Linked DNA regions of Homo sapiens: regions 1, 2 and 3 are each linked to region 4. Evidence: fine-mapped expression QTL. A gene starts in region 4. Each other region holds a variant in brackets. All regions are shown on one strand. Distances are between the middles of the regions.

Region 1 (5,000 bases), 20 kb before region 4:
GGTGCTGCCAAGCATCCCCTGGGCTCCATAGGTATGGCCAGAGGTACGAGGGACCAAGCCCCTGCTCCGTACAAGACCCCTATTGAGTTCAGATCCTCTTCCCAGGGATGCTCCCCTGCTCCTCGGCCTCACTGAGGCTGCCTGCTCTCTCCCAGTGCCGTCTTTGTCCACAGCCTTGGGTTCTCCTAAGGAGCTGACCCAGGCCAGGACAAGGCCAGGACCTCATCCACCCATCCTGTTCAATTCTACGTTTCCCAGTGTCCCAGAATTTGCTTCATCCTGACTCCAAACCTCAGTACCATTCCCTATCTCTAGGGTTGCCGCATCCAGCTGCCCAGGCCATGCACTGCACAACTCCAGGGGGGTCCATTCCCGTAAACCGTGGCGCAGAGGCTGCCTCCTAGGGTTGCAGTATAGCAGCCTGACCTCCCTCTCCAGCTCCCTGCTCTAGTCCCGCCCCTCCCTTTCTCTTCAAGGGGCATTCCTGGCCTCTCCTCCACAGGGGTTTGGTGGAACCAAAAGACAGAAAGAGAAGAGGAAAGACAGAAAGAGTAGAGGTAGTGATAGAGAGGGGCCGGGACAGCAGTGGGGAGAGGAAAGGAAGGGAGGCTGGAGGGTGGAATCGAGGAGCACTGGACTTGGAGTCCAGAGCCGTGGCTTCAAGTAACAGCTCTGCCACCTCCTGACTACTGTGACTTGGGCAAGCCACTTGATCTCCTGGAGCTTCAGTGTTCGTGCTGTGAAATGGGCACCGTCCTCCCTGTCCTGCCTCCCTGCGTGCTTCTGTGAGGCTTGGATGGTGGGGCAGATGGGAGAAGGGCTCTATCCCTGGAAAGCCAGATGTGGATGGAAGGGAGGGAGAGGCCCTGAGTGAGGGTCTTACGTGAGCATCCTGTGTGAGGGTCCTGAGTGAGGGTGAGATGAGTATGGGGAGGATGAAGGACAGCGGGGAGCCAGGGCACCTGCTAGTCCTGGGTCCTCTGCACCCCCTCTGGCCACCCAGGCCCACCGAGCAGTGCCCGAGAAGGCCCTGCATTTCACCTGTCTCCAAGGCTAAGGTTTCCCCAGACCCCTCCCTGGAGCTCCCAAAGATGACACCTCCGAGGACAGGGAGGGGGCTCAGGGTCCCCTCAAGCCCTATTCTCTGAGCTGGGGGAGCTCTTGGTGGGCTCTTGGGGTAAACAGCCAGCCATCATCCCCGTCTCACCCATGTCCAATCCCTGGGTCCCCAGACCTGGGGGCCAGGGGTGGGTGAGGCCCTCTCAGAGGCACATTGTCTCCTATTCAGTGGTGGCCTGCCTCCCCACCCCGCTGAGGTCTGTACATGCTACCGAGGAGGCAGGGGGGGACATGGGGAAGGAGCGCCTGGCAGCAGTGCAGGGCGGGGCAGAGGCGGTGGGGGCTGGCCCGGGCCTCCGGGTTACCTTCTTGGTGCACTGTCTAACGGTGCTGATTAGCTCCGAGATAACCATGTCCACACACTTGAGACACGGTTCTCGGATCTTCTTCACCTGCTTTTTCACAATGGTCTCAAAGGCCATGTCTGGGGTAAACAGCCCCGTTCTGAACGCCCGGAGCGGGAGAAGGGCAGAGTGTCACAGGCCAGTGCCGGCCAGGAGGGCCAGGCCGAGGCTCCTCCCCAAGCCCACGAACTCTGCCTGAGGGGCCCTTCCACTACCCCTCTCTGGGCCTCAGTGTCCCCAGTTGTAAAATGGGAGGGAGGGGTTCTAATGAAGGGTTTTTTGTTGTTGTTGTTATTTTTTTTGAGACGGAGTCTTGCTCTGTCGCCCAGGCTGGAGTGCAGTGGCGCAATCTTGGCTCACTGCAACCTCCGCCTCCCGGGTTCACGCCATTCTCCTGCCTCAGCCTCCCAAGTAGCTGGGACTACAGGCGCCTGCCACCACGCCCGGCTAATTTTTTCGTATTTTTAGTAGAGACAGGGTTTCACCGTGTTAGCCAGGATGGTCTCGATCTCCTGACCTCATGATCCGCCTGCCTCGGCCTTCCAAAGTGCTGGGATTACAGG[C/T]GTGAGCCACCGCGCCCGGCCCTAATGAGGCTCTTTGGGGCAAGACAAGGTGGTTGAGTATCTGATATGTAAGTCCTGCTTCCTCGTAAGGGTCTGTGCATATAGGAAGTTCTATGGCCAGAAATGGCTTGAAAATTGCCAAACGTGGTTCTCCATAAGAGCCTTTCCAGGAATAGAGTGTTTTGTTTTAAGACTAGGAAAGAGATCTTTTTTCTGTGAATTGGCCAGTGCAGTTATCAGGAAGTAAATTCCATGCCAAATCTTGGAAATGAACCTGCATGAGAGCAAGGGGACACTGGGTCTTGTTCACTGCTTGGCATAGGGTAGGTGCTTTAAATTTTCCGGCCCAGTGGATTTGTTGGATGAACACAGCATAGATCTGGGTCCCTGAAGGGGATCTAAGCTTTTAAGGAACAGATTCCACCTCCCAATCCTGTTTCCTACTCCACGGGTTGCCTAGAAGGAGGGCGGTGGGGTGGAATGGGACTGACTCTGGGCTACTGTGAATACAGGAGGGTGTGGAGGATTGCAAAGTCCCCGGCCGTCATAAAAGGACACAGCCTCATACTTAGATGCTCCACCCCAGGCCCTCGTAGTGGTTTGGACATCTTTGTCCGGTTACCTGGGTGGCACTGGGGGAGCTATCTCACCCTGGGGATGGGCCCAGCCCCAGAGGGTGTTTCCCCGGCCACCTGCGCCCTGGGCTGTGCCCAGTTGGCCCAGCAAGTTGCAGTAGGCGGGGTGGCCCGGGTCCACCTCCCCAAGCTGGAGCCTGTCATGCAGGGAGCCAGAAAGTTGGGGTCGAGAGGACTGGGGAACAGAGCTTTCAGTCCTTCCTGAGGGAGGCCCACTTCATCACTCCCTGTGCCTCTGTCCCAGACCCCCTACTTCTGGGGTTCAGCCACCCTCCCAGGCCCCAATACGTGCCTAATGCCATGGATATTCTTGATAGCATAGCTGATCTCCCTTCGGAGTTCCTTCTCATCAAACTCCATCTGTGTAGAAAAGCAGAGAAAAGCCTGGTCAGGGCCTGTCCTACTACCTGGGAGGTCAAGACAGGGCCCACCCCACACCTAGGGCTGGGCATCAGGGCCTGTGGGGTGGGGGCCAGCAAAAACACACGCAGAGAGAGTCCTGAGTGAGGGTGGGGGGAGTCCTGAGCCATCCTGTCCCCAGGGCTGCCTGACCTACCTTGACCAGCTCGAAAGGGAAGCGCTCGTGGAAGATTCGGTTAATGCGGGCTCCCCCTGACAGTTCGTAGGTGTCGATCTGATCTCCTGAGCCCTCAATGCGCTTCTCAAAGTCTACGGCGAACTGCTGGACCATCCTGGTGGGAGAGTGGTGTGGCCTGAGGGGGCAGGAGCAGCCCAGCAAAGGGAACCCTGGGAGAGCCCCACGCTGAGAGGCTGGGGGCGGGGATTCAGTGATAGGAGCTGGGGGAGCCTCACTGCAGCAGGGCCTTGGTCTTGCGAGCTGGGTCATCAGGGCGGAAGTTCTTGTATTCCTCCACCTCCTTCTCAATGGACAGTAGCTGGCTCTGCAGCTTGTTCCGCAGCCCCGGCAGTGTGTCCCGGATGTGGTTCGTCAGTTGCTGGGGGTAAGGGTGAGGAAAGGGTTGAGGACAGATGGTCACAGGGCCAGGAAGGGACTTGGATGCCAGGGGACTGTGTGAACGTGGTGAGGTGGAGAGCTATGGAGGGCAGCCCTGCCACTGCTGCCCGGGCCACTAGCAAGAAAACTGGTTCATAGAAGGAGCTTGCAGAGATGTATTAGTTGAATTAATGAGTGCATAATTTTCAATAAAGCCAGAAATCTGGATTTGTATTTGGAATTTCCTGATTTTTGGCCAATTTAATCTTTTTATTTTTATTTATTATTATTATTTTTTTGAGACGGAGTTTCACTCGTCACCCAGGCTGGAGTGCAATGGCGTGATCTCAGCTCACTGCAACCTGCGATCTCTGCCTCCCAGTTTCAAGCAATTCTCCTGCCTCAGCCTCCCAAGTAACTGGGACTACAGGCGTGCACCACCATGCCCAGCTAATTTTTTGTATTTTTAGTACAGGTTTTCGCCTTGTTGGCCAGGCTGGTGTCGAACTTTTGGCCTCAAGTGATCCACCCGCCTCAGCCTCCCAAAGTGGTGGGATTACAGGCATGAACCACCATACCATCCCAATTTAATATTTTTAGACGTGCGTCTGAGGCAGGGGTGGCCAGAGGGCTGCCCCTTGGACCCTCTGGGTTTAAAGCCTCCTTTAAGGTCATTCTCAAGTTCTAGCACTCATGCTCACTAGGTGCCCCCACACAGTATCTCCCTGAACCTTTACAACAATCCTATGAAACAGGTCTGATCACCATTGTCTCCATTTTACAGATGCAGAAATAGAGGCTCAGAGGCCAGGCACGATTATGGCTCATGCCTGTTATCCCAGCACTTTGGGAGGCCAAGGCGGGCAGATCACCTGATGTCAGGAGTACGAGACCAGCCTGGCTAACATGGTGAAACCCCGTCTCTACTAAAAATACAAAAATTAGCCAGGCGTGGTGGTGTGTGCCTGTAATCCCAGCTACCTGGGAGGCTGAGGTAGGAGAATCCCTTGAATCCAGGAGGCAGAGGTTGCAGTGAGCTGAGATCGCACCATTGCACTCCAGCCTGGGTGACAAGAGCAAAACTCCATCTAAGAGAGAAAGAAAGAAAGAGAGAAAGAGAGAAAGAGAGAAAGAAAGAGAGAAAGAGAGAAAGAAAGAGAGAAAGAAAGAAAGAGAAAGAAAGGAAGGAAGGAAGGAAGGAAGGGAAAGAAAGAAAGAAAGAGAAAGAAAGAAAGAAGAAAGGAAAGAAAGAAAGAAAAGAAAAGAAAGAAAGAAAGAAAGAAAGAAAGAAAGAAAGAAAGAAAGAAAGAAAACAAATAAAGAAAAAAGAAATAGAGGCTCAGAGAGCCAGAGAGAGTGTCTCAGAGGGGGAGTGACAAAACTG
Region 2 (5,000 bases), 50 kb before region 4:
ATTACACGGGGACTACCATGGTACCTATGGGGACAGTTTGGCCCCGATGGCCAACAGGCTCAGAAGCCTGATCTAGCGGTGGCCAGGAAGACAGGATGCCAGCACCCAAGGGCACTGACTTCCATCCAGCCCAGGTGTCTTCCATTCTGTCCCCCTGCCTCCCTCGCCTGCCTGAGCCTGGTGGCCTGTTCTGTCTGTCCCTCCAGAATGCCAGCCGCCCTGCCGGCGCCCTCCAGGCTGAGTTAATGGCCCTGCCCCCTAGTGGCCAGAGCCCGCTTCACAGGATGAGAGCCCCCTAAGCTCCAGGGGCTTTCCAGGAAAAATGTCCCTTGGAAAAGATGTGGTCTTTTCACCACCCCCAGCAGCACCCTAGTAATGGCTTAGCCCTTCCCCTCCCCTGAGCTCCAGAGAGAACACAACCAGCAGAGGAGACATTCCCCATCATCCAGAAATGGGTTTTATTCTCAGCCGAGGGACAGCAGGACTGGTAGAAACTGTCAGGCCACACGGCTGCCTGCACAGCACCCCCATGCTTGGTAGGGGGTGGGAGGGATGGCGGGGGCTGGCTGTCCACAGGCCGGGCATGACAAGGAGGCTCACTGGAGGTGGCACACTTTGGAGTGGGATGTCGGGGGACAGCGTTCTCTGGTAGTTGGGCCACAAGACTCCACAAGGATAGCACAGTGACTGATTCCCAGCGCTAGAGGCGAGGCGGTTGGCCATGTGTAGGTGTGTATATATATGAGTATTTATAGATATTTATAGAACAGGGCAAGGGCATACCACAGAAGGGGCACAAGTTTTCACCAACGGTCACACCTGAATGTATCAGCTCACCACTACAACAGATTAAGTCACAGATGAAGGGGGCTGGCTTTGGGGCTGGGGGAGCCACTGTCAAGTCACAGAACAGCCGTCCAGGCAGGCTTGGAAAGGGAGGTCTCCGAGAAGAGGAGGGATCTGTTTAGAGGTCGAAGGGGGGCCTGGGGCTCTCAGGACGGGATGGACTTGCCTGACCCGATCGGCTGGCAGTTGGAGAGAAAGCAGAGAGAAAACGGGAGAGAAAAGCGAGGAGAGAGCTGGTAAGGCAAGCGCAGCACACGGCCGGGGCCGGCCGCGCCGCAGCAGTGGTGGGAGGGCCGGGGAGGGGAGGCTGCAGGTGTGGGTGTGGCAAGGTTCCTGGAAAAGGGGCTGGAAGGGAAAGGGGAGGAAGATGGAGGGAGGAGCCGTAGCTTCACAGATAGCGCCTGGGGGCTGTGGCGGCCCTCCCCACCCCACACACGCTGGCCTCTCACACGGCACCCAGGCAGGGCACCCGCAATTCAGGCTGATGCTCGGCCCCCTCGGGCTTCCCTCTTCTCTGGTCACCCTGTCTTCCAACCCACTGGCCTGGGGCCACCCCTTGCCTTGGGGAGCCCCATGCAACAGCCACCAGGCCTGATAGAGAAAGAACACTGCTTGAACCAGGAGGGTGAAACTAAAAGGGATGGCTGGAGGGAGCGCCGGAGGCCCCTCTGGGTGTTCAGAAAACCCAGGACCCTCTGAAGGGACCCTGGGGGAGGCAGGGAGGGCAGGCAGCCGGATGCCAGTGGCCATAGACTTATAAGTCTAAGAGGGGAGCCTCAGCTGGTCGGGGGGCTGCAGGTCTCGTAGGTGAGGCTGGGCCCTTCCTGCTGGGAAAAGCAGAAGAGCGAGAGTCAGTGGCAGGAGAATGGGGGGTGGGCTCACTGGGCGGAGCTCAGCTGGGCCAGCAGGCACGGTCGTCCCCTTGGCTGAATGGCACAAGTGACCCTAGGAGCAACAGGCCAAGGTGCGTGAGCCCGCTGGCTGGCTACGGTGCTTCAGCTGGGGCCAGGGACACTGCCTTCAGTCACACTAGCAGCTATGACGGTACCTGGGAGGGAGGGAAGGGGGCTGTGTGTCCCTGCCTGGCCTGTGAGGTATGTCGTGGGATGACCGTGTGTATGGGACTCTCAAGCTTTTACCCTAGGTCACCACTGGATTGCCGGCAGATAGAGGAGGTGGGACCCTGACTCTCACCCCTGCTCTACGGTGGATTTGGCTCTCAGCACTCCCAGGCTGGGAGCTGGATGCCCTACCCAGGGAGCATGACTCAGACTGCACACCACGCACGGTGTGCCCAGGATAACGTTCCTAGGCCTCTGGCCGCCTCAGAGTCCAGCCCCACACACGACCCCCTCCAAGCTCCCAGCCTTTACACCATAAACCACGAGCTCTCTGCCCTCTCTGACGGCTCCAGAGAGCACCCATGTCTGCCAGCTTGGGCGCGGAGCCTGTTCCAAGAGCCTCCAGGCTCAGCCATGGAGGCCTTGGGCAGTGGCACTGAGTCCCGAGGCTCGCAGGGAAGGGAGGTGAGAGAGCCAGCGGCACAAGGACAGAAAGAGGAAAGAGCAAGTCTGCAGCTGCAGAAGGGAGGGGCGGGGAGCCTGGCTCTGAGGTCCCAGGTGCGCGCCCCGTGTGGAGCTAGTGCAGCGGGGCAGACACACCGTTCATGCAGCAGGCGGTGAGGCATGTACCTACCATGGCTGACGCTCCTCAGGGGTCACTGATAGTGATTCTGAAAGACAGCACGAAATCAACATGGCAGTTCACACGCACGGGTGGGGCCGGCCTGGGGGTGGGGGACACACACACGCACACGCCCGGGCGTGCACACA[C/T]ATGCTGTGAGGCCCCATGGCCCACATGCACACGCTAACACACATGCCCACAAACAACACGCATACGCCTCCTTCCCCGCCACCTCCCAGTGCCCAGCACCCTCACTGGCCGGCGGCGCGTGCAGCATGGATCTGGGGCATGCAGCCACTCAGCACACTGAAGCACACGTGTGGGCAGAGTCACAACACAGAAGCTCACCCGCACACAGAGGCATTTGCACCAGCTCCCTGCACACTCGTGCCTGGTGTGCTTAGAGGATCACCCGTGCTGCTCATGGAGATAGGGCTTGCTCGCTAAAGTCCAGCTGTCATTTCTCCACCTAAGAGCCTTCTGTGGTTCCCTACTGCCCACAGCATTGAGCCCCAACAAGTCAAACTTTTCAGACTTTGAAGGTTCTCCACCTTGCGCCCCACCCTGCCCACAGAGCTCTTCCTCATTCTGTCTCTGTTCTCTGCTTTGTCCAGTGGCTGTCCTCGTTGCAGCCCACACTACACCTCTGCCCACACTGCAGCTCTTGGCCCAGATACCCTCCTGATTCCTTGCCACGTAAGCCTATCTCAGCCATGCCTCAGACTGCACTGAAGTCAGGTTGCCTTGAAGAAGCTCTCCCAGACTGCTCTTTTCCCCAAGGTAGGGTCATGATTTGCCAAATGTTTCATGTGTGTTAGCAAGACTGGAGTTGGGGCAGGCATCAAACCTTACATCACAGATCTCACACCGCACCATAGACCTGGGTGCCAAATACCCTGAAGAATCTGAACTCACGTTGGCAGTTAGCAAAGTGCTCCTACGGCTGCATCTGCAGTTAACACAGCATCCCTATAGCCACTGTCTCCCTCGATCCCCACAACCGCCCTGGGAAAAAGGCAGAATGTCATCATTTGATAGAAGGGATGCTGAGGCTCTGGGAGGGAAAGAGACGTGTCTAAAGGCCCAGGGTGAAGCAGCATCTCTGGACTCCCAGTCCAGTCCTCTTGCCCAATACCATGCTGCTTGCCTCTACGCATCTGCTTTGGTCATCAGAGCATCATAGGGCAAGCCCCAATCCCTGCCTCATTTTGGTTTATGGGTGCTAGACCGACAGCCCTACCCTCCAGCCATGCAGAAACAAAACAGATGCTATTGTTCTGCTGTGTTCTTCCTTAGAGAATGTGGCCAGTGGAAACAGGGCAGACTGGGAATTGGAGTGAACTTCCTTGAAAGAGAGTCATGGGTCAAGAAGGTCAAGCCAAAGGATGTAGTAGAAAGCTTTTCCCTAGAAATCTTTGGGAATGAAGCAGGCTTCAAGCACTCCCATCCCTGCCCCTGCCGCCACCCCTACCACATTGGTTTAGACTGGGTAGGGCCAGAAGTCGCGGAGGGGGTGGTTGGGGGGAGGAAAAAAGCCATCAGTTTGCCCACGGCCCAGGCTGCTTCCCCAGCTGCTCCTGTCCTAGCCCGGGCCTGGGTGCCATGCTTACACTCTCACACTCGTGTGCACGCCCACACACACATCACACACCTTTCTAGTCACACAGTCACAGCCTGGCCTCTGCTCCTGTGGGCCAGTGGCTGGACACCCCCTGGGATGGCTCAAAGGAGTCAGGGCTGGGAAGTGGGGACATCAGGGTAGCTGAAGGAAATCCACACACTCAGAGCAGATCGGGGTTCAGAGTCAGACCTAAGGTAGGCTCCCCAGGGGCTGGGAGAGGAATTGGACGGAATGGAGGATGGAGGACAGCAAGAAGAAGAAAGGAGGAGGAATGCAACGTGTGGGCGGCCGCCAAGAGTGAAAATAGAGGGAAGCGCCATGCAAGTGCTGGAAAGAAGGGGGCAGGTGGGACGAGCCCCACAGCCCCCTCCCCAGAAACGACCACCTCCGGGACTCAGCGCTCCCTCGGGGGCAGGCTCCGCCAGCCCTCGGCCACACGTGGCGTGGCTCCGGCACCCAGAGTCCGATTGCCTGGGATAGAAACGGCCGGTTCTGGCGGCCAGGTCCGATGCTCTGGAATCCAGCCCCATTTCCCTCCCGGCCACGCCCGTCCGGCAGCCTCTCCAGCCGCATTCAGCCCCTACTCACCTGGGGACCCCGGGCGGGGCGCGGTTGGGGCGCGAGGGCACCTGAGGGGGAGGGCCGAAAGGGTCAGGGGAAGCCCCCGGCCTGGAGGGCACGGGGGGCGCCCCCCCCAGGGCGGACCCAGCAGGCGGAGGCCCAGGAGCAGGGCCCCGCGACCCGGGCCGGGCTGGGGGCACGGCGGGGGCTCGGCGCTGCGGCGTGGGGCTGGACGTGGGCGACCTGAGGGCGACAGGGAGCGAGGAACAAGGAGAGGCGAGATGAGCAG
Region 3 (5,000 bases), 25 kb after region 4:
TCCTCAGGGCCCTGTCATCCCCTGGAGGATGGGGGGCAGCTGCCCTTGGGCAAGGGGGTATTGATAGGGGTGGGTATTGGATGTCAACATAGTTTCTGAAAGGAAGCAGGATTCTTCTTCTCAGACAATGCCTGTGGAAGACAAGTCAGACCCCCCAGAGGGGTCTGAGGAAGCCGCAGAGCCCCGGATGGACACACCAGAAGGTGAGGGAGGGAGGCTGCTGGCCCTTCAGAGGGACATGAATGGGGTGGGGCCAGTGGGCGGGTCAGCAGGTGATAGAGGCAGGTGTGGGAGGCAGGGGTTCTTGGTGGGAAGGCGGGGAGCCCAGGCCCCATCTCTTGGAGGTCAGAGATGCTTGCTCTTCCCAACATGAGTTCCCTCGCTCATGCCTCCATTCCAGACCAAGATTTACCGCCCTGCCCAGAGGACATCGCCAAGGAAAAACGCACTCCAGCACCTGAGCCTGAGCCTTGTGAGGCGTCCGAGCTGCCAGCAAAGAGATTGAGGAGGTAACTGATGCTGAAAACCTGACCTGCGCCCGGGTGCCCTGTGCTCTCATTCCTGCAAAGGCAGGGGTGGCAATGGCAGAGGGGGTGCACCATTCAGTGGAGCTGGAGCAAGGAAAGGGCCTTGGCCTCTGATTTGGAGGAAGGCCTTACTTATTTCCGCACCTGACCTGGGGAAGCTCCCAGCCAGACTCTGGTGTCTTCCTTGAGACTGAGCCACCTGGGGGCCAAGCTGGATGGCTGCGTGGGAGGGGTGAAGACGTTCATCTGGGACCGTAGTGGGCAGGCCATTTACAAAGCCAATTGGATACATGTCAGCAAGTTGTGGGAGGTGAGAACGATCCTCCCCGGTTTATTTAGGTGAATCTGAGGCCTAGACAGCCAAAGGAGTTTGCCCAAATCCCCAGCCTGTAAGTGGTAGAGCCAGCATTAGAAACCAAGTCTTGGGCTGTATGTGGTGGCTCACACCTGTAATCCCAGCACTTTGGGAGGCTGAGGCGGGCGGATCACCTGAGGTTGGGAGTTTGAGACCAACCTGACCAACATGGAGAAACCCCGTCTCTACTAAAAGTACAAAATTAGCTGGGTGTGGTGGCGCATGTCTGTAATCCCAGCTACTCCGGAGGCTGAGGCAGGAGAATCGCTTGGACCTGGGAGACGGAGGTTGTGGTGAGCCGAGATCGCGCCATTGCACTCCAGCCTGGGCAACAAGAGCGAAACTCCATCTCAAAAAAACAAACAAACAACAACAAAAAACCAAAAACAAACAAAAAGAAACAGTCTTGGGCTGGGCGCGGTGGCTCACACCTGTAATCCCAGGTTTCACCATGTTGGTTAGGCTGATCTGGAACTCCTGACCTCAAATGATCCACCTGCCTCAGCCTCCCAAAGTGCTGGGTTTACAGATGCGAGCCACCACGCTCGGCCTAGTTTTGGCCTTACTTGGGAGCCCCTGGGGCCTCTTTGAAGACATGACTGGGATTTTTTTTTGATCCTTCCTAGCTCAGAAGAGCCCACAGAGAAGGAACCTCCAGGGCAGTTACAGGTGAAGGCCCAGCCGCAGGCCCGGATGACAGTACCGAAACAGACACAGACACCAGACCTGCTGCCTGAGGCCCTGGAAGCCCAAGTGCTGCCACGATTCCAGCCACGGGTCCTGCAGGTCCAGGCCCAGGTGCAGTCACAGACTCAGCCGCGGATACCATCCACAGACACCCAGGTGCAGCCAAAGCTGCAGAAGCAGGCGCAAACACAGACCTCTCCAGAGCACTTAGTGCTGCAACAGAAGCAGGTGCAGCCACAGCTGCAGCAGGAGGCAGAGCCACAGAAGCAGGTGCAGCCACAGGTACAGCCACAGGCACATTCACAGGGCCCAAGGCAGGTGCAGCTGCAGCAGGAGGCAGAGCCGCTGAAGCAGGTGCAGCCACAGGTGCAGCCCCAGGCACATTCACAGCCCCCAAGGCAGGTGCAGCTGCAGCTGCAGAAGCAGGTCCAGACACAGACATATCCACAGGTCCACACACAGGCACAGCCAAGCGTCCAGCCACAGGAGCATCCTCCAGCGCAGGTGTCAGTACAGCCACCAGAGCAGACCCATGAGCAGCCTCACACCCAGCCGCAGGTGTCGTTGCTGGCTCCAGAGCAAACACCAGTTGTGGTTCATGTCTGCGGGCTGGAGATGCCACCTGATGCAGTAGAAGCTGGTGGAGGTAAGTGAGCACTGGCTCCCAGCTGGTCTGGTGATGGGACAGCTCTGCCCAGACCCTTCATTCCTCCCCTGACTGGGTGCTGCCTGGGACTGAGGGCTAGGCCTGGAACCCAGGTCCAGGGCCATCCATGCTGGGGGCCTCAAGGTTCTGGCTGCGGACGGAGAAGGCAGCTCTTGGGCCTGGGGACTCTGGGAAATACAGCACATCTGTCATTTCAGGCATGGAAAAGACCTTGCCAGAGCCTGTGGGCACCCAAGTCAGCATGGAAGAGATTCAGAATGAGTCGGCCTGTGGCCTAGATGTGGGAGAATGTGAAAACAGAGCGAGAGAGATGCCAGGGGTGGGTAGAGGCCCTGATGTGGCAGTGTGAGGGCCACAGAGCCCAGCAGGGTGGGATGGCCTCTTTCTGCCCCAGGCCACCTCAGGGCCTCCTTGTGTTTCCCCCACCGTGAAATGGGATGACAGCCCTCTGCCTAGGATGGGTGGCCAGACCAGGCTGGGCTTGATAGTGGTGTGCATGGGACCCTCTTGCTGTTGTGCTGTCTTCACATCCGTCCCTTCCAGCCTGCCCATCCCCAAGCCAGAGCCCCAGTCTCCTCGCATGGGTAATGTTGCTCTCGTGGAGAGAGCACAGAGTGGAAGCCTCTCTGTGGGATTTGGGTCCCAGCTCTGCGTAACTGTGGGCAAACCCTTTCCCTCCTGAGTCTGTTTCCCCATCTGTCATACAAGGGGTGGGATGAGTGGTACTTTAGGCCGACCTGGGTTCGCATCCTGACTGCAGTGCTTTCTAGCTGTGCAAGCTGGGGTAGTCAGCTAACAGCTCAGAGCCTCAGTTTCCCTATCATCAGGAAGATCTGATGAGACAA[C/T]GTTGGCAGATGTTGAATGCTGGGCTGGCCCACTATAAGTACACAGTTGATGGAAGTTCAGTTCCTACTCCCCATGCAGGTATGGGGCGCCGGGGGCTCCCTGAAGGTCACCATTCTGCAGAGCAGTGACAGCCGGGCCTTTAGCACTGTACCCCTGACACCTGTCCCCCGCCCCAGTGACTCCGTCTCCTCCACCCCTGCGGCTACCAGCACTCCCTCTAAGCAGGCCCTCCAGTTCTTCTGCTACATCTGCAAGGCCAGCTGCTCCAGCCAGCAGGTACTGATACAGGAGATAAGGGTGGGGAGGGGTGGGGCCTGCGTGGAATGCCCAGCCTGCCCTCCCAAGAATGCCTCAGGCTGCAATGGGCCCTGCCCCAAGCAGCCATGCATTTGCTTGGGAAACATTTCCTGACCTGCCAAGAAGGCAGGTTTTGGTGGTTTTGTTTTTTGTTTTGAGACAGGGTCTTACTCTGCCTCCCAGGTTGGAGTGCAGTGGCATGATCTCAGCTCACTGCAGCCTCTACCTCTTGGGCTCAAGCAGGTTTTTAGAGTCAGTCAGACCTGGTTCATATCGGCTCTGAGTAGCTGGGAGACCTTGGAAAGCGAATTCCACCCTGTGCCTGTTTCCTCTTGCATCAGACAAAGGAAAGTTTAGGGTCGGGCACAGTGGCTCACGCCTGTAATCCCAGCACTTTGGGAGGCTGAGGTGGGTGGATCACAAGGTCAGGAGTTTGAGACCAGCCTGAACAACATGGTGAAACCCCGTCTCTACTAAAAATATGTGTTGGCATGCTTCTGTAATCCCAGCTACTCAGGAGGCTGAGGCAGAAGAATTGCTTGAACCCAGGAGGCAGAGGTTGCAGTGAGCCAAGATCATGCCACTGTGCTCCAGCCTGGGTAACAGAGCGAGACTCTCAAAACGAAACAAAAAAAAGAAACGTTTAGAATCCACCTCACTGGGTGGTTCTGGGGATTCAGCAATGTGACATTGGAGTCCTGAGCGCAGGCCTGGCCCAAAGTGAGTGTAGCAGTAATCATGATCGCATTGTACTTGTATTACTACTCTTGTGCTGTGAGCTGTGTTACTCTGTGCCTCACCTGGCACAGCCTTGGAGACCTGGATGCTAATCAGGCCGCTCCTTGTCTTTGAGGCACTCACACATTCTCTGGGAGGGGCAGAAGCTCGGGCTGGCATGTACCCTGTGTCTTAGTTTATCATGCCTGCTCTAGCCTACACAAGAGAGAAATGTGTGGTGAGAGAAATGGGCGCACAGTGATGAGGCTGGGGTCTGCCTCCCCAGGCCCCAGCCTTGCCCACTGTTCTGGGCTCACGCCCCAGGCCCATCCCTCTTTCCCTCCTGCTGCAGGAGTTCCAGGACCACATGTCGGAGCCTCAGCACCAGCAGCGGCTAGGGGAGATCCAGCACATGAGCCAAGCCTGCCTCCTGTCCCTGCTGCCCGTGCCCCGGGACGTCCTGGAGACAGAGGATGAGTGAGTGGGGGATCGTGGAAGCTCTGTGTTGGGGGGTAGGCAGTCTCATCGGCCAGGGCCTGAATCTACCATCTGCAGGGTTTACCTTTGGGTTAAGCACTGCACCCCCAGCCAGGCCTCCTCACACTGTTAACTGTGTGACCTTGAACCTCAGTTTTCCCTGCCTGTAACATGGCTTGGTGACGGATATAGTACAGGAATTCATGACATTCTCTTAAGGTTCCCTCTAGGCAGGAACAGTATGACCATCCCTGTGGGAGAGGACAGGTTGTGGCACAGACTCTTGCCCCCTGTGGCATGTGTGCTAACCCCGCTGTGGGGTGACAAGGCTGAGGATCAGGTTCTTTTGTGGTTGGAGGTTAGGGTTTCCCTGTGTCTCCCCCTTTCATTGTCATGGGAGCCTGTTTAATCAGAAACTTCAGCCCTC
Region 4 (7,362 bases):
GGTCTTCCCCCATCCCCCCAGTCTGCTCCTCCTTACTCTTCCCGACTCTGTTAATGGCACCAACACCCACCCAGGAGCTCAGGTCAAAGTCCCAGAAGTCATCATTGATTCCTCTTTCCTCACCCTCCACATTCATCCTCCAGCAGGACTTCCTCTAAAATATATCCTGAAACCCACCCACCATTCTCCTTCTGGTTGCAGCTGAAGCCCTTGTCCAGGCCCCCCACTACCCCCTGCCCACTGCAGCAGCCTCCCCACCAGTCTCCTGCCTTTTCCCTCACCCGCTCCCCAAGTCACACCCTTGCTAGAATTAGCTCATCACTCCACTACTAAAAAGCTTCCCACAAGAGAGAAAATAAACCCAAACTCCTCACTCCTCATGGCCTAAGGGCTTTGTAGATCTAGCCCCTGCCTATCTCTCAGGTCCTGTCTCCCCCTTGCTAGCTGAATACCAGCTACAGGGTCTCCTTTCTGTTCTTCAAAGGCACCAAATTCTTTGCTACCCCGGGGCCTTTGCACCTTTCCCTTGGCCTGGAACTCTCCCGCCCCTGGCAAGTTACACAGCTTCTCATCCCTTGGTTCTCATCTCAGATGCCACCTCCTCCTGGAGACCTCTGACCTCCCTGGGGAGAGCAGCCCCACTCCCCTCCCTGACGTTCACCACATTTTCCAGTTGTCTTCTGAGTTTCTCCCTCTGCAGTGCAGAGTCTTGGTCTTTTCCACCATAGAATCCCCAGTGCTGAGACATCGTGCACCCTCCACAAATGTTTGCTAAATGACTGAATGAATTGGCCTCAGTTTTCCCTTCTGTAAAAGGGAAGGGGGTGAAGAAATAGTATAGACCCAGACAAGTTCTAGCAGCATCCCAGGCAGCTGCAAGGCTACCTCCATTGCAGAGTTGACAGCAGGATCCTCCTGAGCACCCAGAAGCCCGGGTGGGCCTGGGGCAGCCCTGATGCATTTTCCTGTGAAGCATTTTCTGTTGGGGATTGGCTCCTGGGAAGCCCCAGGAGACAGAATGGCTGTTACTATGCTCACCAGTCTGGGGACTGAGCCCTGTTGGAGAGGTCAGGAGCCCTTGAGGGAGCTGGCAGGCTGAGACAGTGGAACCCACTGAGCCTCAGTTTCCCTGGCCTTCTCACTAGCTTTCAGAGGATCATGAATGCTTTTCTGCCTACTCCTTCACATCAACCTAAGCCCCCTCCCCTGCCCTGGGCCTGCATCTGGACACCCTGCACATCCTCCTGTGGGGACAACGGCCAAGGGCATTGGGGTGGAGAGGGCAGCCAGAGGGCCCAGGCCTCCTGGGGCACGGTCCAAACCTTGCTCCACCACTCAACAAGCAAGTACTCGATGAAATCTGCTGTGGTCAGGGATGGCCCCTGCGTCATGGGCTCCAGGAAGGCAGGGGCTGGGCATGCAGGTCCCCAAGCCTAATTGGCTATCAGCGCCCCCTCCCGCATGTTTACAAAAGCACCTTTCCACCCATGAACTCGGTGGAGCCCACAGTCACCTTCTCAGGAAGGCAGGGCAGCGGCTGTCAGCGTTTCCATTCCGCAGATGGGGAAATGGAGGCCCACCCACCCACACGTCCCTGTGCCTGGTGCAGGACCCGGCTGTCAGAGGATGTGCAGCGTCGAGATTAGGAATTGGGCTTTGGAGTCTAACAGCTGCTGCCCTTTCTGAATGTGTGACCTTGGGCAAGGCATCTAACCTCCAGGGTCTCAGTTTCCTCATCTGTAGGATGGGCATCATGGTACCTGCCTCTTGGGAGCTCCTGTGAGCCTATGAAGGACTCAGCATAGGGGGATGCATGGGATGGGCTCAGTAGATGCGGGCTGAAATCACCAGTTGGTCCCCTCCCTACCCCAAGCCTGAAGCACGCAGCCTGGCATGGGGCAGGAGTTCAGCCAACATTCAAAGGACGAGAGGTAGGAATATGGTTTCTCCATTCTAAACTGCTGGATATCCCTGACTGCTGGCCCTTGGGGAAGGGGCCCGTGGTGTGTCTCTTGCCTGTGTCTCTGCAGCTCCGGGGGTCATGTGATCAGAAGGGGGGCTCTGCAGGAGCCATTGGAGAGACAGATGCCTTCCCCTCTGCTGACCAGATGGGCACGGCCGCCCCCACGGTGGCCTTCCAACGTCCCACACACACATGGCTCCAGTCAGGCCCTCTCCCTCTCACCTCTAGGGCTGGCATGGGTTTCCCAGGACATTTGAGGGGCAGGAACAACCACCCAGTCCCACTGTCCATGTTAGAGATGGGGACACTGAGGCTCAGAGAGGGCAAGTGACTTGCCTGAGGTTTTGCAGCAGAACCTGGCTTGGACAGAACTGCTGTACCTCTGCGGACAAGGGCCCCTGCCTCCCTCTCCCATGTGCCAGTCACTTTTTTGGCCCTGAAGGTCATTGGAAGAAAGCAAGAGTTTCTGAAGAAGATGGGGGGGAGATGAAAGACGGGGTCAGTGTAAACTCTCTCACTTCATCCCCCAGTCTGCCCAGCCCCCCAACCCACCTCCAGTACCTGGAGAGCTCCTATCTTTCTTCTCTCTCCTCAGCACCAGAAAAACTATTTCTGCCTCCCTTTGGGGGTTTGTGGGGAGCCTGCGGGTCACGACCCTGCCTGCCCCGCTAAACCCACGACCCTTTGTCTTTGCGGTTGTTCCTCTCTCCGCCACCTAGGCCTCTCAGCGCCTTGTGGGATCAGAGGCGGGAGGGGGATTAGGTTCTGCAAATGGCTCCCCCCTCCCGCCATCCCTGTCTTAGTCATCTCTGCCCTCTGCCGCCTCTCCCTCCAACACGATTCCTCTGGCCAGGCCAAGGGGAGGGCGACACTGACAGGCGCCCCCCACCCAGGGGCCGTGGCGAAGCAAGGGGCCGGCTGCTCAGAAAAGGATAAGAAGTGGTTTCTCCTCCCCTCTTCCCTTCCTCATCCTGCAGCCCGCGCCTCCCCCCTCGCCGCGCTGCGCACGGATGGCGGCGGGAGCCGCAGAGGTGTGTGTGTGCTGGCGGGAGGCCGTGCCCGGTCCTCGATGCCCGCGGGACTACGTCCTCTTCTAGGGACTGGGATGCGGGGGCTGACCTCTGCCACGGCCCAGGAATTCCCATGGGGGTAGGGGGATGTCCCCCATTGAGCCCGGTGTGGGGGACGCTGCCCCCGGGTGCTGCCCGCTCCAAGGGACTCCCGGAGCCCAACGGAGACGCTGAGTAATGCGGGCTCTCTCCATGCCCATGTTGGGGGCGGGGGGCAGCTCTTTGCCCGGGGCTTCTGGCAGAGCGTTGTCTGCCCTAAAGGATGGGACGGAGGAGGGGGCGTGATTCGGTAGCCGGAGGCTTGACGACGTTTGCAGACTAGCGGGGGGCGCTGCTGCCCCGAGGGGCTCTCGTGGTGGGGGGAGGGCCTCCTCGCTCCGGCTGGGGGTGGGGGGCGCGCCGGCCGCGGGTGCAGCGTCGGGGGCTGCGAGGTCGCCGCGCCGTCAGTGCCCCGGGCGGGGACTCCAGGGATCCCGGGGGTCGGGGGTCGGCGCCTGGGGGCGCGCCGCGCCTACCTGCCTACGAAATTCTCGAGCACCGAGCTCTTGCCGGCGCTCTGGCCGCCCACCACAGCGATCTGCGGCAGGTCGAGGTCCGCGTTCTGGCCGATGGCAGAGAAGGCGTCTTGCAGCCGGTTGACCAGCGGGATGAGATCTTCCATGCCGCGGTTGCCCATGGCTGCGGCGGGCCCCGCAGGCTGCGATCCGGCTGCCGCTAGCGCTCCCGGCTCCGACTCCGGCTCCGCCGCTGCAGCCGCGCGCCCAGACTGCCTGCGCCGCGGGGCCCCCGCCCCTCGGGGATCGGAGCGAGCACCGCTCCCGGACGCCGCTAGGGGGAGCCCGCGGCGCTGCGGGCCGGCCGCCGTGCGCAGGCGCCGTCCGGGGCATCATGGGTGTCGTAGTTTTCACCTTCTGCGGCTTTTGGGGTGCTTTAGCAGTGTCTGGGGTGCGCGGATGCTGCGCAGAATATATTTGTCAATGGGTTGGGTCTCACTCCTAGTACCAGGCCTCTTGGAGAGTGGTCTGGATGTTTCACTCCATCTTACCGATGAGGAAACAGGCCTGGAGAGCAGATGGGCTTCCTCTGAGGTCACAGCCTCCTGACCTCAGAGGTCAGAACTCCGAGATGAGTTCCCCTTCATCTCGCTGGCTTCTATCCCTAGATCCTGACTCTGATCTCCAACATGTCCTCTTCTGCCTTTGGTCCTCAGTTTCCTTGTTTCTAGAAGGAGAAAGTTGGAACATGAATTCAACAAATATTTACTAGGTACCTGCTAGAAGCCAGGCCCTGTCCTAGGCACTGAAGATTCAGCAACGAATAAGACAGCCAAGGCCTCTGCCCTCATAGATCTTGCATCAAGCTGGGGAGACAGACAGTAAATAAGTAAGCAGATAAATGAAATAGTAAAAATGAAAATAATTCATAGTAAGAGGGATGGAGGAAATAAACAGGGTGAAAAAAGGTATCTTTGTGGGTGTGGAAAGTTCACATTGGCTTGGCAGGAGTCGGGGGTGTTCTCTGCAGAAGTGACATTTGAGAAGAGACCAAAATGATGAGAAGGAGCCAGCAGCAAGCAGATCAGGGGAAGAGCATGCCAGGCTGAATGACCAGCAAGTGCAGAGGCCCTGACACCTGGAGGGCCCTTCTTGGGAGAGTTGGAAGCTCTTGTCCTAGAGAGTGGAAGTCTTTGCTCCAACCCATCAGGATGGTGGTAAAACAGCGTAAAACAGTGGGATTCAAATCCAGGGCTCCTACAATCCTACCCTGCGTACCCTTTCACACAGACAGACCATGGGGCCCTGAGCCCAGCCGTCCATCTCTGCATTTAAGAAACCTAATTAGTATTCACGGTGGAGGCTAGGAAGGGAAGGCTAGCCTACACTGTGCTCATGGGGAGTCGGTGAGTCATTTCCCTGCGCTGTGAACAGTGTGGGGGCACTGCTGACAAAGTGGTCTGTGAATTGGAGACTGTTCACTTACTCATCCATTTAATGCGTATTTGTTGAGCCAGGTACTATGCTAGACTCCAGAGATAAAGCAGTGAGCAAAACGGACAAAGTCCTTACCCACATGTGGCTGACAATTCAGTGGAAAAAGACAGACAATATGCAAATAGGGCAATAACGATGGCCCTGTTAGATGGCGTGCCCTGCAGAGCAAGAAAGCAGGGGCGGGGTAGGGTGGTGTTGCTATTGTGAAGATGGTGATCAGAGAGTGACCCTTGTGGGGAGGAATCTTCGAGGCAGGCATGGGGAACAAGCAGGCCCTCTCCCTGGTAGCACCAGAGAGTGGATTAGGAGTCTAATCTGGGCCTTAAACAAGCTGCGTGACCCAGGTCCCTCCACGTCTCTGAACCTCAGTTAACTAATCTGGATAATGGGGATAATAATAGATCAAATGCCTGTGTAGGGCACAGCCCAGGCCTAGTGCTCAGGGGGCCCTTATTAAGCTGCAGCTGTGAGGATGCCAATGATAACAGCTCACCAGACAGCTGGAGCATCAGTGCCACACAACTTGCATGGAACCTGGCAGCTGTTCCATGCCAACCTGTTATTATGCTCTGAGGACAAGAGAAGGCAGAGATGGAAGCCTGGATGACTGGCACCAGGAGGGGGTGCAGTTTATAGATGTTTGCCTAGAGGGCATCATGGCTGGGCTTTTAATATTATTTATTTACTTATTTATTTTATTTATTTTTGAGACGGAGTCTCACTCTGTCGCCAGGCTGGAGTGCAGTGGCATGATCTCAGCTCACTGCAACCTCTGCCTCCTGGGTTCAAGCGATTCTCCTGCCTCAGCCTCCCGAGTAGCTGGGACTACAGGCACGTGCCACCACTCCTAGCTAATTTTTGTATTTTTTGTTTGTTTGTTTGTTTTTTGAGACGGAATCTCGCTCTGTTACCCAGGCTAGAGTGCAGTGGTGCGATCTTGGCTCACTGCAACCTCCACCTCCTGGGTTCAAGCAATTCTCCTGCCTCAGCCTCCCAAGTAGCTGGGACTACAGGCTCGTGCCACCACGCCCGGCTAATGTTTTGTATTTTTAGTAGAGATAGGGTTTCACCGTGTTAGCCAGGATGGTTTCCATCTCCTGACCTTGTGATCTGCCTGCCTCTGCCTCCCAAAGTGCTGGGATTACAGGTGTGAACCACTGCGCCCGGCCAATTTTTGTATTTTTAGTAGAGATAGGGTTTCACCATGTCGGCCGGGATGGTCTCGATCTCTTGACCTTGTGATCCTCCTGCCTCAGCCTCCCAAAGTGTTGGGATTACGGGAATGAGCCACTGTGCCCAGCCTATTTATTTATTTATTTGAGACGTAGTCTCGCTCTGTCTCCCAGGCTGGAGTGCAGTGTCGTGATCTCAGCTCACTGCAACCTCCGCCTCCCAAGTTCAGGTGATTCTCCTGCCTCAGCCTCCAAAGTAGCTGGGACTACAGGCATGCACCACCACGCCCAGCTAATTTTTTGTATTTCTTTCTTTTTTTTTTTTTGAGACAGAGTCTTGCTCTGTCGCTCAGGTTAGAGTGCAGTGGTGTGATCTCAGCTCACTGCAACCTCTCCCTCCCTGGTTCAAGGAATTCTCCTGCCTCAGCCTCCTGAGTAGCTGGGATTACAGGTGCTCGCCACTGTGCCCAGCTAATTTTTGTATTTTTAGTAGAGACGGGGTTTCATCATCTTGGCCAGGCTGGTCTCAAACTCCTGACCTCATGATCTGTCCGCCTCAGCCTCCCAAAATGCTGGGATTATAGCTGTGAGCCACCATGCCCAGCCAGCTTTTATTATTTTTACTTTTTCCCCCCTAATTACAATATTGAAACTTATTGTAAAACCAGACTTTACACAAGTATTTGAAAACCTCTGGTCATCCTCCCACCTAGAGATAACCACTATAGCTTAGGGATCGTTCTCTGGCTTTGTTTTTCATATATGCACATATTCATTTTGTTCCATTTTGTTTTTACAGAAATGGGATTATACTAAGTATCCTATACTGCTGTATCACTGATGCCAGGCCAGCAGCCTGGCATCACATGGAGTTGGTTGAAAAGAAGAATCTCAGGGCCAGGTGCAGTGGCCCACACCTGTAATCCCAGCACTTTAGGAGGCCAAGGCGGGTGGATCACTTGAGGCCAGGAGTTGGAGACCAGCCTGTCCAACATGGCGAAACACCATCTCTACTAAATATACAAAAATTAGCTGGGCATGGTAGCCCGCACCTGTAATCCCAGGTACTCGAGAGGCTGAGGTGGGAGAATTGCTTGAACCTGGGAGGCAGGGGTGGTGGTTGCATCGAGCCGAGATCACACCATGCACTCCAGCCTGGGTGACAG

The links. PIP is the estimated chance that this variant, and not a neighbour inherited with it, causes the effect.
Region 1: its variant is fine-mapped to the expression of DNM1 in whole blood (TOPMed, PIP above 0.99). The same link has a PIP of 0.9 or more in cerebellum.
Region 2: its variant is fine-mapped to the expression of DNM1 in unexposed skin (GTEx, PIP above 0.99). The same link has a PIP of 0.9 or more in sun-exposed skin.
Region 3: its variant is fine-mapped to the expression of DNM1 in whole blood (TOPMed, PIP above 0.99).

Annotation. Positions count from the first base shown.
Region 1 is chr9:128,220,814-128,225,813 of GRCh38, reverse strand. DNM1 (dynamin 1) reads right to left here. Exons shown (of 22, transcript NM_004408.4): 7 at 3,475-3,617; 8 at 3,218-3,353; 9 at 2,954-3,021; 10 at 1,425-1,563. Among named protein-coding and RNA genes, the nearest start is that of DNM1, 20 kb to the right of the region's middle. The variant C/T (reference allele first, on the strand shown) is at 2,027.
Region 2 is chr9:128,250,679-128,255,678 of GRCh38, reverse strand. It overlaps DNM1 (dynamin 1), which reads right to left. Exons shown (of 22, transcript NM_004408.4): 21 at 4,739-4,954; 22 at 435-1,025. The coding sequence ends at 965. Among named protein-coding and RNA genes, the nearest start is that of MIR3154, 8.1 kb to the right of the region's middle. RefSeq lists enhancers at 1-123, 124-628 and silencers at 4,783-4,872, 4,883-5,000. The variant C/T (reference allele first, on the strand shown) is at 2,679.
Region 3 is chr9:128,175,924-128,180,923 of GRCh38, reverse strand. It overlaps CIZ1 (CDKN1A interacting zinc finger protein 1), which reads left to right. Exons shown (of 17, transcript NM_001131016.2): 6 at 110-203; 7 at 401-509; 8 at 1,509-2,215; 9 at 2,434-2,555; 10 at 3,161-3,358; 11 at 4,449-4,573. Among named protein-coding and RNA genes, the nearest start is that of CIZ1, 13 kb to the left of the region's middle. RefSeq lists an enhancer at 1,999-2,690. The variant C/T (reference allele first, on the strand shown) is at 3,082.
Region 4 is chr9:128,199,818-128,207,179 of GRCh38, reverse strand. It overlaps DNM1 (dynamin 1), which reads right to left and starts at 3,801. Exons shown (of 22, transcript NM_004408.4): 1 at 3,549-3,801. The coding sequence starts at 3,709. It also overlaps a transcript of CIZ1 not described here. RefSeq lists enhancers at 2,015-2,587, 4,019-4,118 and silencers at 2,876-3,170, 3,739-3,958.